Homo sapiens: one gene and its partners. The protein of the gene in region 4 purifies or fractionates together with the protein of the main gene of each other region. This does not show direct contact. Each region holds a gene or a part of one and is shown on either strand. Other genes may lie near its edges.

Region 1 (3,722 bases), on a different chromosome or scaffold from region 4:
TAGCTGGGACTACAAGTGTGCGTCACCACACCTGGCTAATTTTTGTATATATATATATATATTTTTTTTTTTTTTTTTTTTTTAAATTTTGGAGAAAGAGTCTTGCTCTGTCGCCCATGTTGGAGTGTAGTAGTGCAATCTCAGCTCACTGCAACCTGCACCTCCTGGGTTCAGGTGATTCTCCCACCTCAGCTTCCCAAATAGCCAGGATTACAGGCACCCATAACCAACGCCCAGCTAATTTTTGCATTTTTAGTACAGACGGGGTTTCACCATTTTGGCCAAGCTGGTCTTGAACTCCTGACCTCAGGTGATCCACCTGCCTTAGCCTCCCAAGGTGCTGGGATTACAGGTGTGAGCTACTGCACCCAAATAAGAGTATATATATATATATATATTTTTTTTTTTTTTTTTTTTTTTTTTTTTCCTGAGACGGAGTCTTGCTCTGTCACCCAGGCTGGAGTGCAGTGGCGTGATCTCGGCTCACTGCAAGCTCCGCCTCCCAGGTTCACGCCGTTCTCCTGCCTCAGCCTCCCAAGTAGCTGGGACTACAGGCGCCCGCACCACGCCAGGCTAGTTTTTTGTTATTTTTAGTAGAGATGGGGTTTCACTGTGTTAGCCAGGATGGTCTCGATCTCCTGACATTGTGATCAGCCCGCTTCGGCCTCCCAAAGTGCTGGGACTACAGGCGTGAGCCACCACGCCCGGCTAAGAGCTTATATTCTTAAATTTTGAGTAATTAAAGGGCTCTGGTCAACTGCTTGAGATTTAGTGTCTAAGGATACCTATTTAAAATTAGAGCACAGCTTTTGTCCAATAAAATGCAATATATCTAATTGAACTGACACCGATATCTAGTTAACCTGCCTTCAACAGGCTTTCATACCTGTTACTATGTCACCTTTGGCTGTTTCCAAAATTAGCTTTACTTTCCAGAGACTAAATCCTGTATTAAAAAACAACTGTAGCTGGGCATGGTGGCTCATGCCTGTAATCCCAATGCTTTGGGAGGCCAAGGCAGGATTGCTCAAGGCCAGAAGTTCGAGATCAGTCTGGGCAAAATTGGTTGAGAGTCTATCTCTACCAAAAAAAAAAAAATTAGCTAAGCATGGTGGCATGCAACTGTAAGTCCTAGCTTCACAGAAGGCTGAGGTGGGAAGATCCCTTGAGCCCAGGAATTTGAGGATATAGTGATCTGATTGTGCCACTGCCCTCCAGCCTGGGCAACCAGAATGAGGCCCTGTCTCTTGAAAGAAACAACTTTTAAGAGTTCTCTAAGCTTTCAAATAACAAGCAGTTTTGGTGATTTCAAGAGACCTTTTTTCAGGAATTTTTGAATTAAATCACCCAAATAAAAACAGGACCTGTTGTTTTTAGAAATGGAGTCTCTATGTTGCCCAGGTTGGTCTGGAACTCCTGGGCTCAAGTGATCCTCTTGCCTCAGCCTCCCTCAGTGCTGGGATTACAGGTATAAGCCACCGCACTGGGTCTCTTTTTTATTTTTTTAGTTGTTAAGTGGCTAATTTCATTATAGTCTTGCCTAAAGATGGGCTGGGACCAGAGAAGTTTATGAGGTTGTCACTGATAACTTCCCACCAGAGATCGTTCACCCTGTCTCAACCAGACAAAATAACACAAGTCAGGGGGCGCTGGTTAGATCAGGATTTCTTTTTATTCCTCGTTGGTTTAAAATGGCTAATCAGAATAAAAAATAAAAGGGCCTCTTTGTGGAGGCTGGGATCTCCCCTATTTAGAGGTTAGAACCCAGGTATCCCCTCTACCCAGCACCATAGTGAGGTGGGCTGAGGGGTAACCCCCAAGGGACAATCGGAGGGGCCTAGGCCTGCCACTCCTTCTCTCTATCCCCCGTTTTTGGCATGTGATGAAAAATATTGCTTTTTGGATTCTTCTCTCCTGGCCTTGGATTTTAAAATCAAGTTAACTGTGTAAGCTAGGGGAGGCTCCAAGGGGCCAGTAGGAGCACACTCTAATCCCTCTCCCCCAAGGAGGGGATTATCCAATATTGTTTGAGCTAGGCCAAGTTATTTTCCTGATCTCCCACCACCACCAGTGTCTTGAAGTTTTGACCCCTTTCCTAGGGAAACTAAATGCCAATGAGCCTAGAAAACTAATTCTCCTCTCCAAGTCCTTCCCTCTTGTGACCAAAATTCCAGACTCACCTCTCCCCAGGCTTCTTCCTAATCACACTTAGCACCAGCAGAGGATGCTATTTCCGTAGTTAGTAACTGGGACAAATGAGAGGGAACCACAGGAAAAAGACTGACGTCTCCCCTCTTTTCCTGCTGGTCTGAGGAATGGGAAGAGTAAGATCCCCCTCCGTATATGTATCCCTCCCTCATTTTCCCATCCCAGGATAGATATATAATTTCTTTGATATTTATAATATATATATATATATATTATATGTACACACACACCTGGTAACGCAGAAGAGGAAAAAAATAGAATCCGTAACAATAATAAAAAAAATTATTTCTGGTTTAAAAATGATCTGGTTCCCTCCAGGGCGAGCAATTGCACAAATGTCCACTGAGTCTGGTCCAGGGATCAAGGAAGGGAAGGTCTTAAAAGATAAAAGGGGGGGTTGCTACCCCAGTCTCAGGGCCCCAACTCTCCGACTCCCCAAGCCTACTGCATTTTAGAAAACACTCCTCATCCTCTTGGAATCGGTGGTTTAAAAAATGTCCATGCACGGGAGGGGAGCCCCTTGAGGGAAGGAAGGTGGCCACCTGGGGCCCTTTGGTGTAGGCGCAGAGGCGTTGGGGAGGGGAGGTGCCGAAGGCTCACACCGAAATCTCATAGGTGGTACCACCAACCCCTGACACCTTCTTGACTCCTCCCCTCGTGGGGCTACTGAGAGGTGGCTGGCCTGGGCCAGGGGAGGCTGAGCCTAAGCTCTTGGGCTGCCCGTTGGATTTGCTGTAGGTGGTCTTCAGCTGTACTTCATCTCTGGAAAGAAGAGACAAGACGTAGGTGTCAGGAAATGGGACAGAAAACATTGGAAAGGGAGACAGTTTCAAAGGTTCAGAGAAAAAAATGATGTTCTTTTCTATATCCATACTTTCTTACCCAAACATTCCCCTTTATTGCCCTGCTTAAAATAAGCCTGATTCCCAATCTCTCCTATGTACTACTACTCTCTAGTAACAGCTATCACATGTACTTACTCCCAAGCAAATACTTTTAGGAAGATAGCATTATGGAAAAAGTATTAATCTTCAGTCTCTTAACAGGAATTGCCCATGAAGGCAGGTAGAGTCAAAGTGAAAATAAAGAGCTACCAGGATACCCCTGGGTCCACCTACATTAGGATGTACAACAGAAGCCCTGATAGCTTTTGCAGAGCAGTATGCTAATTTGAAATTGGCTAAGGGTCAGGATAGTACTAATACTTACTTGGGTGTCAGTAATGGCTGCAAGGCCACTTCTTCTGTCTCAGAGACACCAGGTTGGGCTTTTTGGCTGCTGTAAGACATCGATCGGCCCAGGTATGGGGCTGTTGGGCCTGGTTCAGGGGACCCTACTCCCCGGCCCCTTAGCCCATCTGGCTTGCCAAAACGGGGGACAGCTGGGCGTCCCAGTGGAGTCTTGCCCAAAGGTGATCTCTTTGAATCATCTGAGGAGGAACTAGTACGAGGGGCATGGCCCGAGCCTGGTGTTGACTGAATGCCTGAGTCCCCCAAGCCTGGTTCTTCCTCACG
Region 2 (4,653 bases), on a different chromosome or scaffold from region 4:
CTCAGCTAGCTACCTCCAGCCCTGGTATTCTACTCTGACGCCAAGAGTCCAGATAATACAGTTAATTCTACATCTCCTAGTTAGTGAGTCAAGACATAGCCATAATCTCCTCCTGGCTCCCACCCCTCCCTAGCCTTTCCCTGCACTTTCAAGAGGCTATTTCTACATCTATAGTCTTCTTTCACTGGGCATTGGTAGCACAGCTAAATAATATTCTTAGAACTTTGCTGGGCCGGACGTGATAGCTCATGCCTGTAATCCTAGCACTGTGGGAGGCCGAGGCAGAGGATCCCTTGAGCCCAGGGGTTCAAGACCAGCCTAGGCAACATAAGGAGACCCTGTCTCTATTTAAAAACAAAAAACAAAAGAACTCTGCGAGTGGCACAGTACTTGGGTTTACTGTTTTGCGCCCAGGGCAAATTACTGTGAATTTTAAATTTTCTAGTTGCTAGCCCATGTTCATGAGAAAAGAAACATACCTTTTGACTAAGGAAAGAATTGTTAACTCAGACTATTTTACTAATGATCCCAATGGTCATGCTGGTTGAGTCTCCATCCCCATATGATTAATCTAAGCTGATAATATAAATCCCATTCTCCTTTCCAGCCATTGGCTTAAGAATGGTCATATGACCGAATCCTTACCAATAAAGCTTTAAGAAAAATCAGCTAGTGGGCTAGTAAGAAAAGTTTCTTCCATTCTAAAAAAGGGACACAAGAAAGAGACAACTTCTCTTCTTCCTCTGGATGTTGTCATTTTGAATGTAACCCCTGTAACTCCTATGTCCATCACACATCCAACCTGAGGATGAAAGCTGCACATGGGCAGAACCAAGGTCCATTGAGGAACTGCTGAATCAGCCAACAAGGAGCTCTATTTCTTTTTTTTTCTTTTCTTTCTTTTTTTTTTTTTTTTTTTGAGACAGAATCTCACTCTGTCACCAAGGCTGGAGTGCAGTGGCATGATCTTGGCTCACTGCAACCTCCACCCCCCAGGTTCAAGGGATTCTCCTGCCTCAGCCTCCCGAGTAGCTGGGATTACAGGCGCCCGCCACCACGCCCAGCTAATTTTTGTATTTTTAGTAGAGACAGGGTTTCACCATCTCGGCCAGGCTGCTCTTGAACTCCTGACCTTGTGATCCACCTGCCTTGGCCCCCCAAAGTGCTGGGATTACAGGCGTCAGCCACCGCGCCCGGCCAGGGGCTCTATTTCACAACCTCTTGCAACATGAGATAATTTACTTACTGTATGAGCCGATCTGAATCCATTTTCAGTTACTTCTAGCTGCAAGCACTGTAATTAATTCAATTATTAATCTAGATGCTATATCTTATAACTCCTGCAAAAGCAATGTCACATCAGAGACCCCTGTTTCCCATGAACACTGTAACTCAGGGATCATTCGAGAAGGAGGGCAAATATAAAACTCTGTACTGCCCTCTCATCTTTCAGGACTGTGCCTATGTCTACCACCTCCCAACCAATGTTACTATCATGAGAACAATTTCAGAGACAGTAAAATAATCCGTCAAAGATTTTTTGCTAAGCCAAGGGAAATCCTCTAGATCATAGACAAATTAGCAACACATAAACAAGGCTGCCTTATGAATAAGAGCCACATTATGAAATAATGGAGGGCAGTGAGGGTTCCTCTCCCATTCCCCAAATATTCGCCCACTACTACCTGGCTATCGCCCTAGGTTCTCCAAGTGGAGATTCACCCTTTTGACCTGAAGTAATTATTGTTAAATATAAATGCCCATTTAGGGTTAACATGTTAAATCTTACTAACACTAAAATTTCTAGTGAAAGCTTATCAAATCTTTCCTGACAGCAAAATTTGAAGGGATGAAATTGGAAAGAGAACATTACAGTGAACACTTGATGTCTAAGAAAGGAGGGGAACACAAAAGGGGCGAGAATGTTGAAAGGTGCCACAAGGGTCTGGAAAAATTATACTTACTTCCCAATTCTGTCTCCCGTTAGAACTCACTACATTTATTCAGCTTGTGGAGGTCATGTGACCATAAGTAATAACATTCTCAGCCAATGAGGACCCGGGTGCCCCTTCAGAACCTGGCCTGGGGCCAACCCTAGGAGTTAACTCCAAAGTGGAACATCAAACCAAAAGCTTCAATATCGCATTGAAATCATATCACTCTCCGGGCCAGGCGGGAGGAACAGGAAACCACACAGTCTGTGAGATCAGCCAACTCCTTTTCAGCACTCAGTAAGACATGGAAGCCAGATGGCCTTTCCATCTGGACACCAGGCAGGTCGAATATTCCCCCAACTCCCTACCTACCACTGTCTGGGACCAGTGGTTTCACTTGAAGAACCAACCAGATATAAAACTGTATTAGCATAACCACCAAATGATTTTACAAATAACTTGGCTTTATAGGAATTCTGCATTTTAAACAAGCAGAACTTCTGTTGTTACTTTCACAAAGACTTAGTTTTTATGATACACTTTTTTAAAAGGATATAATCATGGCGAAAATTGCAAAAATTGTTTTATTTTCCAGATGGCTAAACTGAGATAGAAGAAAGGAGAACATTATCAAGATCTTGATGTTTATCATGGGCAAACCACCTGCCAACCTCTCCCCCTAAAGCCTCTTTCCATGGGGCCTTCCCACTTCCCCTGTTCTTCATCCAACGCCTCCACTGACCTTGAGTGGTGTTGAGTTTCTATATAGTACTGAAGCTCCCTTTTTCCCCCAAGAACACTTGGTTGAAAATTACCTCTAGTCCAGTTTTACATGGTGCCTACAAGTTGTATTTCTTCCATTTTCTAGACATAGTGACGAGGTAAAAATCTGAATAGTACCAACAGGTATAGTGTGTAGACATGCTTCCCTTCATCTCTTGACTTCCACTTCCCCAAGCTGCTTTCCCAAAAATTATCCACTTCTTGAGCATCCTTCCAGATACAGTTTATACATATATAAAATACATTTTAAAATTTATAGATTATTTTGCTCTTTAAATTGCAAAAGGGGGCTGAGCACAGTGGCTCACACCTGTAATCCCAGCACTTTGGGAGGCCAAGGCAAGAGGGTCCCTTAAACCCAGGAGTTGGAGACCAGCCTGGGCAACATACTGAGATCCCGTTTCTACCAAAAAAAAAGAAGAAAAAAATTAGCCAGGCATGGTGGCACACACTGATACTCCCAGCTACTCTGGAGGCTGAGGTGGGAGGATCACTTGAGCCTGGAAGGTTAAGCCTGCAGTGAGCCATGATTGAGCAACTGCACTCTAGTCTGGGTGTCAGAACAAGACCCATCTCAAAAATAAAATAAAATAAAATAAAATAAAATAGAAATTACAAAAGCACAGACAATTCCCAGAAAGTAATTTTCAGAGAATTTTATAGGAATACAATACAAATGGCAGAAATGTCCAACATACAGGCAGGTCTGGGGAAAGAGGCAAGGTTTCTTCTCACGGTGGTACCGAACCCCAAGAGATATTCTCCTGATTTCTAGATTTGCCATCTTTTCTGAACCAATTTTAGCCTGTATTCCATCTTGAAGCAACAGCTTTCCTAAAATCAGTACTCACTGAATTAAAATAACATTTCATCATCTGTATGGAAACAATTTTTTAAGCTTCAAGAGGAAGCCCAGAGCTTTAGCAATTCAGGATCTAATGATCAGTCCATCTTTGCCCTATCCATATGCTTCATTATTTTGTAGACTCTGAACCTGTCTGCCTTTGTCCTTGTAGACCAAGATGTCTTCATAACTAACCAAATGAAAAAAAACATTGCTCCTAACGGTTAACAGAAGGCTCCTGAGAAACATCATAATCTCAGCCTTGGGTAACTTGAACATTCTAAATTGTTTAAATCAAGTATGTGACAGGTTTGCTAAAACAGAGCATTAGCAATCATGCATGTAGTAACTAAATCCCTAGTAAGAGCAACAAAAGTGATCTCACTAGGAAGGTTTGGTGGCTGCCACTGTCAGCCTCATTTAAACATTAGCTGCTTTCAGGCTCAGCAGTTCCTATATTCCAATCACTCTCTCCCAACCTCTTATTCAGTTCCTTCTCTTTAAGTCAGGATTCTTCACTCAGACAGCCTGATAGGCAAGTACTTGCAGGCAGGCAAACATGGGTTTGAATCCTGGTTCTATCACTAAATAGCTGTGGGAACTGAGCCAAGTGGCTTAAACTCACGAAGCCTCATTTTTCTTATATGTAAAATAAAAGTAATAAAAATGGCTCATTTCACTGGGTCATTACAAGGGTTAAATGGCATAATATTTGTAAAGCACTAGACACAATGTCTTTCAGCAGGACCAGCTACGTAATTTGTGAAACCCAGTGCAAAATGAAAATGTAAGGTCCCCAGTTCAAAAAGAATTAAGATTTTCAAGATGGTGACAGCACAGCATCAAACCAAGTGTGGACCCCGTGGCACTGCATGGGTGGCAGGCCATGTGGTCAGCCCTGCCTTTCGGATGATAAACACTCAATAGATGGTAGCTGTCATCATCTCTTACCACCCTCACAACTCGTATTTGAACCTCACCCTCCCCTCAGGCTCTCTTCAACTTGGAAAGTTTTATGAAATCATTCCAAAAACAGGCACTGGTGTCTCAGAAGCACCCAGAGTTTATAAGACAAATAACTCACCAAAATGA
Region 3 (4,653 bases), on a different chromosome or scaffold from region 4:
ACATGCTCCCACTATCCCATCTCCCCTAGTCTGCTCTCCCTCCTCCTACCAGGGAGGAGCCCATGGATGCCAACTCTCCACATGGGCACCCACCCACTTCCTGCTGCCTTCCCAAGAATGTGGCTCCAGCAAGGGTCACCTCTTCTGATTCATCATGTCATTCATCCTCTGGAGAATTACTTCACCAACACTGCAAAAATGGTGTGGTTTCTCCCACCTCAACACCTCAGGATCCCAAATATCCCTTCATCACTGTGGCAAATCCCATGACGGAGCTCTACTTGCCTTTCTCTTCTCTCAATCCTTGTGAATGCTCCCTTCCAGGCTTTTCCTGCACCACCATGTGGGAACAGCTCTCAAGATCGTCGATGAATTCCACGCTGCCAGAGCCATGAGACGAGTCTTGGTCCTTATCTCAGGTGACCTCACGGCAGCAGCACTGGCAGAGGTCCCCGCTCCATCCTCCGTGACAACACTTTCCTAAGGCCTCAAAGCTGCTCCTTCCACCTTCTAGGCTGCCGTAGAGCCTCATTCCTTCAGTGCCTCACTCAACCTCGGGACTGTTAAATGCCACCTAAATATTGAAGACTCCTATTTCTTTTTCTTTTTTTTTTTTTTTTTTGAGACAGAATCTCGCTCTGTCACCCAGGCTGGAGTGCAGGGCGCGATCTCAGCTCACTGCAAACTCCACCTCCCGGGTTCATGCCACTCTCCTGCCTCAGCTTCCAGAGTAGCTGGAACTACAGGCACCCACCACTAAGCCGGCTAATTTTTTTGTATTTTTTTTAGTAGAGACGGGGTTTCACCATGTTAGCCAGGATGGTCTCATCTCCTGACCTTGTGATCCGCCCGTCTCAGCCTCCCAAAGTGCTGGGATTACAGGAGTGAGCCACCGCGCCCGGCCCAAAGACTCCTATTTCTATCTGCAGCCTAGATCTCTCCCTTGAGCAGTGAACACCCCAATCCAGCATATCTCCAATCTGCTCTCCAAAAGCTTCAGAAACTGAACATGCACAAAACCCAACTCCTGATCTTACTTCCACACGCTGTTCTTCCCAAGTCTTCCCTTTCCTTATACATGGCAACGCCCACCAGCTACAAAAATCCCTGGTATCATCCTTTACTCCTCTCTCACACCCACTCCAATCTGCCAGCAAATCCTGTCTGCTCTTCCTTTTCAAGAAGGATCCAGCAGCCAACCTCTTCTCACTCCCACCCCTGCTCCCCTTCAGTCCCAGCTGCCATTACTGCTCTCCTGGATCACTGCCAGAGCGTCCAACCTCCCTCCAGCAGCACAGGACAGTGGGACCTTTAGAAACCACATCATGTGACACCTCTGCTCAAAACACCAAATGACTTACCCATCTCACTCAGAGAAAAAGACAAAATCTTAACAATGGCCAGTGTGACCTACGCCCTCCCCCCATCTCCCCCATCCATCTGGCCTACCCTCCTCCCACTCTCCCTCAGGCTCCTCACTCCAGCCACACTGGCCTCCGCTGCCCCTCCAACACAGCAGACATGCCTCCTTCTTAGCACCTTGTCCTGCTGACCCTCCGCCTATAATGCTGCCCCTACCCCACTGCCACCCACAGCCTTGTGGCTGGGTCCCTCCACTCCTTCTGTTGACTGCTGTATTTCAATCTGCAGACAAGCACTCCCCCACACCCCACCTCTCCTGGTTTACTTTTCTCCCTGTTTGTATTACCATATGGCTACTGTATCTTTCATTTATCTGTTAACTGTCTTTCCCCTACCAAAATGTAAGCTCCATGAAAACAAGGACTTTTCATCTGCTTTGCTTACTGTTAACATGCCCAGCAGTAGAACAGTGTTTAAGACATGGTAAGTACTCAAACATCTGAATAAAAGGATCACAGAAACAATGTTGAGTGGGGGCAAAAAAAGAACAAAGTGACTCCATTTACATTGTCTAAAGGAATGCAAAAATGAAGTCACATTATATAAGGATACATTTATACTTTGCAACACCATAAAGTAAAGCAGAAAAATGATACATACAAGGTATTTGCCTTGGGGAGGTCAGAAAGAGGGAAGTGGTGAGACGAGGACACAGGGAGCCAAAGGTATGGCAACCTTCTATTTCCTAAGCTGGTTAGTGGGTACACAAGTGTCAGTTCTAATGTTTAATATCTGGGCACATGCTGATATATACTCTTTGAATTCATAGTCCAATTACAAGTTAAAATAAAAAAACAGATTAGAGGCCAGGCATGGTAGTTCACACCTGTTATCTCAGCACTTTGGGAAAACAAGGTGGGAGGACTGCTTGAGCCCAGGAGTTCAAGACCAGCCTGGGCAACATCGGAAGATCTTGTCTCTACAAGAAAAAAAAAAAAAAAATTACCTGGGTGTAGTAGCATGTGCCTACAGTCCCAGCTACTCGGGAGGCTGAGGTGAGAGAATCGTTTCAGCCAGGGAGGTCAGTCAAGGCTGCAGTGAGCTATACTGCACTCCAGCCTGGGACTCTATCTCAAAAAAATAAACAAAAACCACTGCACTCTAGCCTGGGATTACACCACTGCACTCCAGATTACACCACTGCACTCTAGCCTGGGACTCTATCTCAAAAAGATAAACAAAGACAAAACAGATTAGAGCAGGCATTGACAAACTACAACCCACAGGCCAAATCCAACTCTCTGTCTGCTTTTATAAGTAAAGTCCTATTGGAAGACAGCCACCTTCATTTGTTTACAGATTGGCTATGGCTGCTTTCACACTACAAAAGCAGAGATGAGTCCTTGCAGAGACCATTTAGCCTCCAATGCCTAAAATATTTACTAACTGGTCCTTTACAGAAAAAATCTGCAAACCCTCAATAGAGCTGTCTGGTTATAATGCAGAATTTGTAAAGAAATTAAGTGCAAAATCAAAAAGATCCAATCATCTGTTAACATATATTGATCCTTCAAGGCGTATGTGATTATCCACACTATGTTGAAAAAATGATTCTATATAAAATGTGAGACTCCACAGCAAAGTTACCCTACAACGTCCTGTGTGCCAGAAAAGAATAAACTTAAAAGATGTTTTAGAAAGCAAACTGCAAACCTCAAATTTATGATCTCTACTCCACCAGCAGAAATTATGTTATATATGTTCTAATGTTATATTCATATTCACAGTTATATACATTAAAACATATATAACATACTCCAAATTTGGAGGAAGAAAATTTGCATATCAACACTAACTCTGTAACCTCCCCAACACTGAAACCACCATCACCCTGACTTCCGCAGAGCAGCTGGTTAGACCTCGAGGCCTCTCTATGATCCTATAATACTCCATTTCTCTCCTTGAGATCATTCACTGCACCTTGGAGGTGTTTCTGTACTTTTGTTACAAAATACCATACCTATGATGGGAGGATCTCATAGCTGCTGAGTCCATCTAAGGGTGTAATAACAAGAAGTCCACAGTGAAAAGGGACAGTCATTCACAGAGTGTTGTTTACTCAGAAGGGGCAGGGTCTCACTTGCAGACAAAAGAGACAGATGAGACCTGTCCATTGTCCAAAGGCAATACAAACCCTGTGTATCTCTATGTCAACAAAAAAGAACTCCTCAACTACTATACAGTGACAAAAAACTGACACATACTACTACCAAAAATAAAATTCCAGACGTTAACCACTTATTCTGAATTCTAAGTAAAATCCAGCTGTGATGTCACTCTTGAAACAAATAGCACTTAAAACTGTGGTCTGGAACATCACAATCCTATGGAATCACCGGGGCTGAGATTTCTCTGCTCCTTCTGGTTCCATTCTTCTGCATGGCCTCCATTTTTCTGTAAGAATAAATGCGCTGGGCGTGGTGGCTCATGCCTGTAATTTCAACACTTTGGGAGGCCAAGACGGGCGGATCACTAGAGGTCAGGAGTTTGAGACCAGCCTGGCCAACATGGTGAAACTCCATCTCTACTAAAAATAAAAAATTAGCTGGGTGTGATGGCACACGCCTGTAGTCCCAGCTACTCGGGAGGCTGAGGCAGGAGAATCGCTTCAACCTGTAAGGCGGAGGTTGCAGTGAGCCGAGATCGCGCCACTACACTCCAGCCTGGGCGACAGACTGAGAGTCCATCTCAAAAAAATAAATAAATAGAAAATAAATGACGTCTAAGTGTTGTTGCAGCCCAAAACCATGATTCTCACGAATGGAAGCCTCAGTCAATTGTCAAGACTAGTCAGTGTTCCTCCCGCTACGCCCATCTGAGGACCAAAGCCCAACCAATCTGACCAGCCAACCATGGAGCAGGCAGTGTGAACTGCCCTGATTAGGGTCTCAGTGTGACATGTGTTCTCAGGCAAGCTCTTTTTTCTCAAAGTGTGTCTCTGCCACCAGAATTTTTGTTCAGATTTACATGTAGGTATAGGAAACCCAAGGCTCCAACTAACAGTCCCACACAGCTTTCTCCAAGTCTGTCTGACTCAACATCAGTCTGCAGCCGTTTTAGTCCTGCTCTCTAATGTTCCTAAAAACAATCTTTCATTCATCTTTTCTTGGGCCATCAGATTTCACGGTAGTCAATCTCTGGGGAATTCAAATCACTTCAAGTCACTATGTATTTCCACTGTAAGAAATTCTGGAACTAATAATCCCGTGGTTTTCCCCAGAGTTACTGTGA
Region 4 (4,748 bases):
GACGGTGTTCTGGATCTCCACAATAGCCTATATGGTTCTTTGGTCATATATATTTTTTCTTTTTTTAGAGACAAGATCTCGCCCTGTAACCCAGACTGGAATGCAGTGGCCCAATCTGCAGCCTGGAACTCCTGGGCTCAAGCCATCCTCCCACCTCAGCCTCCCAAGTAGCTGGGACTACAGGGATGTGCCACCATGCCTGGCTTATTTAAATTTTTTTTTTTTTTTTTTTTGTACAGACCAGGTCTCATTGTTTCCCAGGCTGGCCTCAAATTCCTGAGCTCAAGTGATCCTCCCGCCTTCGTTTCCCAAAGTGCTGGGATTACAGGCATGAGCTAAAACACTTTCTCTGGGCATGGGTCTTTTTTTTTTTTTTTTTTTTTTTTAAATCTATGGGCTATATTTTACTACCCTAAGTGGATGGAAAGGATTCTTCTGGAATGAAATAAGTGAAGCAAAAGCTCTTCGCTGAATACTTCAATCCTTAGGTGGAGGACACATTTATGGCCAAGAGGAGCTTCAGCCCTGGTTTCTCTCTACAGGATCACCACCCATTTTGCAGCAGTATGGCAGGCAGGCTCGTGAAGCTAGTGTCAGTAGCTCAGCATCCTGTGAGGAAAAGCTACGGAGCCCTGTACTTGCGGAAAGGGTTGAGTGGGTACAAGCGTAACAGCAGTCCAAGCGACACAGGTAAATTCCAAGTTGGCAAGAAAAGCTGAATGCTATTTTTGGTTCTAGGCGTCATACCACTCGTTTTAATATTGAAGAGTGGGCCGGGTGCGGTGGCTTACACCTGTAATCTCAGCACTTTGGGAGGCCGAGGCAGGTGGATCACCTGAGGTCAGGGGTTCGAGACCAGCCTGACCAATATGGCGAAACCCCGTCTCTACTAAAAATACAAAATCAGCTGGGCGTGGTGGCGCATGCCTGTATTCCAGCTACTCAGGAGGCTGAGGCAGAACTGCTTGAACCTGGGAAGCGAAGGTTGCAGTGAGCCAAAATCGAGCCATTGCACTCCAGCCTGGGTAACAAGAGCAAAACTCTGCCTCAAAAAAAAAAAAAAAAATACTGAACAGAGCAAATGGAAATGGGCCGTAAGCAAGTTTTTAACTATTTCCTTCTAAATGAAGTGCAATCAATATAAGAAAAGCGCCTTCTCACCAGCAAGGGAAGCCTGAAGAATGAGTTAGTACTCCTTGTCAAAAGTAACTTCCCTTGGCTGGAAAGATTAATAAAGGCCTAAATGAATATTGTGATTAGATGGCAACACTTTTGCTTTCAAAATGAAAAATGATAAATAGCTACCAAATATAGGCATTAGGCAGAAACTGTTAAATCCATAGATGAAGGTCTGGGTGCAGTGGCTCACGCCTGTAATCCCAGCACTTTGGGAGGTTGAGGCGGGCAGATCGCTTGAGCTCAGGAGACTGGGCAACATGGCAAAACCCTGCCTCTACAAACAATACAAATATTAGTCAGGTGTGGTAGCGTATGCCTGTTGTCCCAGCTACTGGGAAGGCTGAGGCTGGAGGATCTTTGAGAACAGGAGGCAGAGTTTGCAGTGACCCTAGATCCTGCCTCTGCACTCCAGCCTGGGCGACAGAGCCAGGCCCTGTCTCAAAAAAAAAAAAAAAAAAACCCTTAGATGTTCACCATTGTGTTAGTTACTGCCAGGTCATTCTAGTTCCTTCTTGTGCCATACTTAGCAAACACCCTTATTGTTCAGATAAAAAAGATGTGTGTGAATTCACGGAGAACATCAGAACATTCGGAAGTCAAATACGTTTTCAGAAATGCTTCTGAATATAAAATAGATGACAGAAACATAAAACCCTGTGAATCAAACTGCTCTCCCCTTTTAATCAGTTTTATAGAATATTTTACAGTACTAATCACATTAGGAGACAGGAGGGGTTTCCTGTACATATACAAGATTGTGCAAGCTCATTAATTGAGACTTATAGAAAGGTTTTATCTGTTTCAAAAGAGGCAGTACAGCTTTTTAATCCAGGTGAAGCACAAGAAGAATCCAGTAGACAGGAGAGTATTAATTTGACAGAGGTGAATTCCCCTAGTGCATGGCCGCTACCCACACTGTCTGCCATTATCCAAGTGGAGACGTCATCTCTCTTGAATTGAACCCTTGCTGAGCTCAGGCCTGTGGGATGCGGCAGCTCCAGGGTCACTCCATAGCTCAACCACAACTTAACACGGAAGCAAACTATATTTTCATTTATCCAAGTGTTCTCAAGAGTAATAAAGCTATTCCTTGTCCTACTACTTTCTAACCTACATTCTAAAATATATTAAGTAATTTTTAACCTGGCAAAGTTCTCAAGCATTTTGGCATTTAAAGTAATCGCAAATACCTCATCACTGTTAATCCACTTACTAAAAATCCTTTGGGCTTCAAGATAGTTTCAGATTTACTTCCCTTAAAATTAAAGCAATTGCGTACAAAATAAACTCACTAGACTTAAATATTTAAAAAGAGAGACAACAGCCTTTTCTTTAAAGAAACAAAGCAGGAAGAGATGGGAGAGAAAAATCTAGGAAGCACCAATTGAGGAAGTGAACCCCACTACACTTCTATCACTTTTATGCAATCCAGTAATAATTCTGAGTGTATTCCTACTTTCCCTCTTCACACCCAATCACATAGGAGAAAAACAATTTTAAAACACCTAGTTGACCTTACTCGGTCCAAAGTGGAAATTTCCATGGCAAACAATAGGAAAAAGAGTGCCCGGGTTCAGCACACCAGTCAGCTACAGATTCTTACGGCAAGAACACAGCCCCCGTATTGGGGCTGAGATTGTTCTCTTGCTCACGCACCTCAGGGACACATTTGTAAAGCCCACTTTAAACAAAGGCTTCCAGGACATAGGAATAGAAAAACCATGCAGCACATTTGCAATCCCTTAGAAAACCTGAGCCTCCTACTACAGCGATTTAACTATCTGTATCAGAAGGCCTTCATAAGCAGGTTTTTATAAAGAAAAAGCAGAAGAAAGCAATTACTGTGGCTGAGATTTTACCTAAAATGGAGAAAGAAAGCAAAATGTTTGACACGTTTAAATATATATACATATAATTTTGTGGTTGGGCACGGTGGCTCACGCCTATAATCCCAGCACTTTGGGAAGCCGAGGTAGGCGGATCACTTGAGGCCAGGAGTTCGAGACCAGCCTGGCCAACATGGCGAAACCCTGTCTCTACAAAAAATACAAAAATTAGCTGGGTGTGGTGGCATACACTTGTAATCTGAGCAACCAGGGAGGCTGAGCCATGAGAATCACTAGAGACTGGGAGATGGTGGTTACAGTGAGCCGAGATCACAGCACTGCACTCCAGACTGGGTGACAGAGCAAGACTATGTCTCAAAAAAAATTAAAATATAATTTTGTAAGTAAAGACAATCTTCAACTTGTATTTCTATTACTTCTAAAAGCAGAATATTAATACAAAATGCAAACCTGATTTTTCTTTTCCTCAGAGAAGTTAATCCTACAAGATTTCAGGGGACCTGAGCCAACTCTCTCTCCATTTAACATCCACTTTATAAATTCTATGTAGTAACTAGTGGCTGCTGAATGTTTCCTGGGCTGATTTTGTACTTTTACACTAATCTTTCATGTAAAGAAAGTACTGGAAGGCAGTGGAGGAAGAAACATTTGGGGAACAACTATTCCTCTTTTCTATTAAAAAAAAAAAAAAAAATCAAATCACTCCCCATCTCACATACCTGTCAAGAAATCAAACAGTGATGGTTAATGCCAAAGTAGTCCTTGCTCCTGACAGATTTTCAGAGGAAACCTTAGCTGCCCCTGCAACAGCTGTGCTGTGCTCCTCCGCCAGCTATGGAGTCATGAGCACCCGAACCCATTTCACAGGTGTCACAGATGTCAAATCTCTGGGGGGTCTACCCTCAGCCCCGGCTCCAACACAGCACAGCCCTATCTCCTGCCTCCAGTGTAGCCCTTCACCCCAATCCCACCACCTTCTCTTCCACAGAAAAGAGCCCCGATGCAATGTCCACATCTTCATATTTATTTCCACAGTGTTAACATGGAATAGACTTAGCAACCATTGCAGAGAAAAAAAAAATCTCTCATTGGTTTATGAGTTAAATCCTGTAACAATGAATTTCAACCATTCGAAGTCTTCTGCTGCTTAACATTTACTGAATCAAAGGCTGAAGTAAATGGACTCTCATCTAGGTCTCAGAAATCACACAGCTGGCCTCGTGATGTATTTACGATGGGATTTAACTTCTAATACAAGGCAAGTTTGACAGTTACAGCCAATGAAGTGCACGACTCTGTACATGGATTTCTTGACCTAACATTCAAAAGGACATTTCATAGTACTAGTTTAATTCTGATCTCTCTCTAGAAGGCAGAAACCACATCCCACACTCCTATGCAATTTGTTATTTTGGTATTGTAAAGTAAATGAATAAGAAGGGGTGGAGGCATAAAGAAAATCTAGTTTCTGGCTGGGCAGGGTGGTTCACGCTTGTAATCCCGCACTTTGGGAGGCCAAGGCGGGTGGATCACGAGGTCAGGAGATTGAGGATCATCCTGGCCAACATGGTGAAACCCCGTTTCTACTAAAAATACAAAAATTAGCCGGGCTTGGTGACATGCGCCTGTAGTCCTAGCTACTCGCGAGGCTGAGGCAGGGGAATCACTTGAACTGGGAGGTGGAGGTTGCAGTGAGCCAAGATCGCACCATTGCACTCCAGC

The links.
Region 1: the proteins of GAPVD1 (region 4) and ZDHHC5 purify together in Homo sapiens (co-immunoprecipitation; one large-scale study listed by IntAct). This does not show direct contact.
Region 2: the proteins of GAPVD1 (region 4) and CREB3L2 purify together in Homo sapiens (co-immunoprecipitation; one large-scale study listed by IntAct). This does not show direct contact.
Region 3: the proteins of GAPVD1 (region 4) and PPP6R3 fractionate together in Homo sapiens (co-fractionation; one large-scale study listed by BioGRID). This does not show direct contact.

Annotation. Positions count from the first base shown.
Region 1 is NC_000011.10:57,699,114-57,702,835, reverse strand, and holds the end of ZDHHC5 (palmitoyltransferase ZDHHC5), read right to left. Parts: coding exon 3,418-3,722; intron 2,971-3,417; coding exon 2,805-2,970; 3' UTR 1,654-2,804; downstream 1-1,653. UniProt on the Homo sapiens protein: Palmitoyltransferase that catalyzes the addition of palmitate onto various protein substrates such as CTNND2, CD36, GSDMD, NLRP3, NOD1, NOD2, STAT3 and S1PR1 thus plays a role in various biological processes including cell adhesion, inflammation, fatty acid uptake, bacterial sensing or cardiac functions.
Region 2 is NC_000007.14:137,994,434-137,999,086, forward strand, and holds part of CREB3L2 (cyclic AMP-responsive element-binding protein 3-like protein 2), read right to left. Parts: intron 1-4,653. UniProt on the Homo sapiens protein: Transcription factor involved in unfolded protein response (UPR).
Region 3 is NC_000011.10:68,467,252-68,471,904, reverse strand, and holds part of PPP6R3 (serine/threonine-protein phosphatase 6 regulatory subunit 3), read right to left. Parts: intron 1-4,653.
Region 4 is NC_000009.12:125,364,291-125,369,038, reverse strand, and holds the end of GAPVD1 (GTPase-activating protein and VPS9 domain-containing protein 1), read right to left. Parts: 3' UTR 1,832-4,748; downstream 1-1,831. UniProt on the Homo sapiens protein: Acts both as a GTPase-activating protein (GAP) and a guanine nucleotide exchange factor (GEF), and participates in various processes such as endocytosis, insulin receptor internalization or LC2A4/GLUT4 trafficking.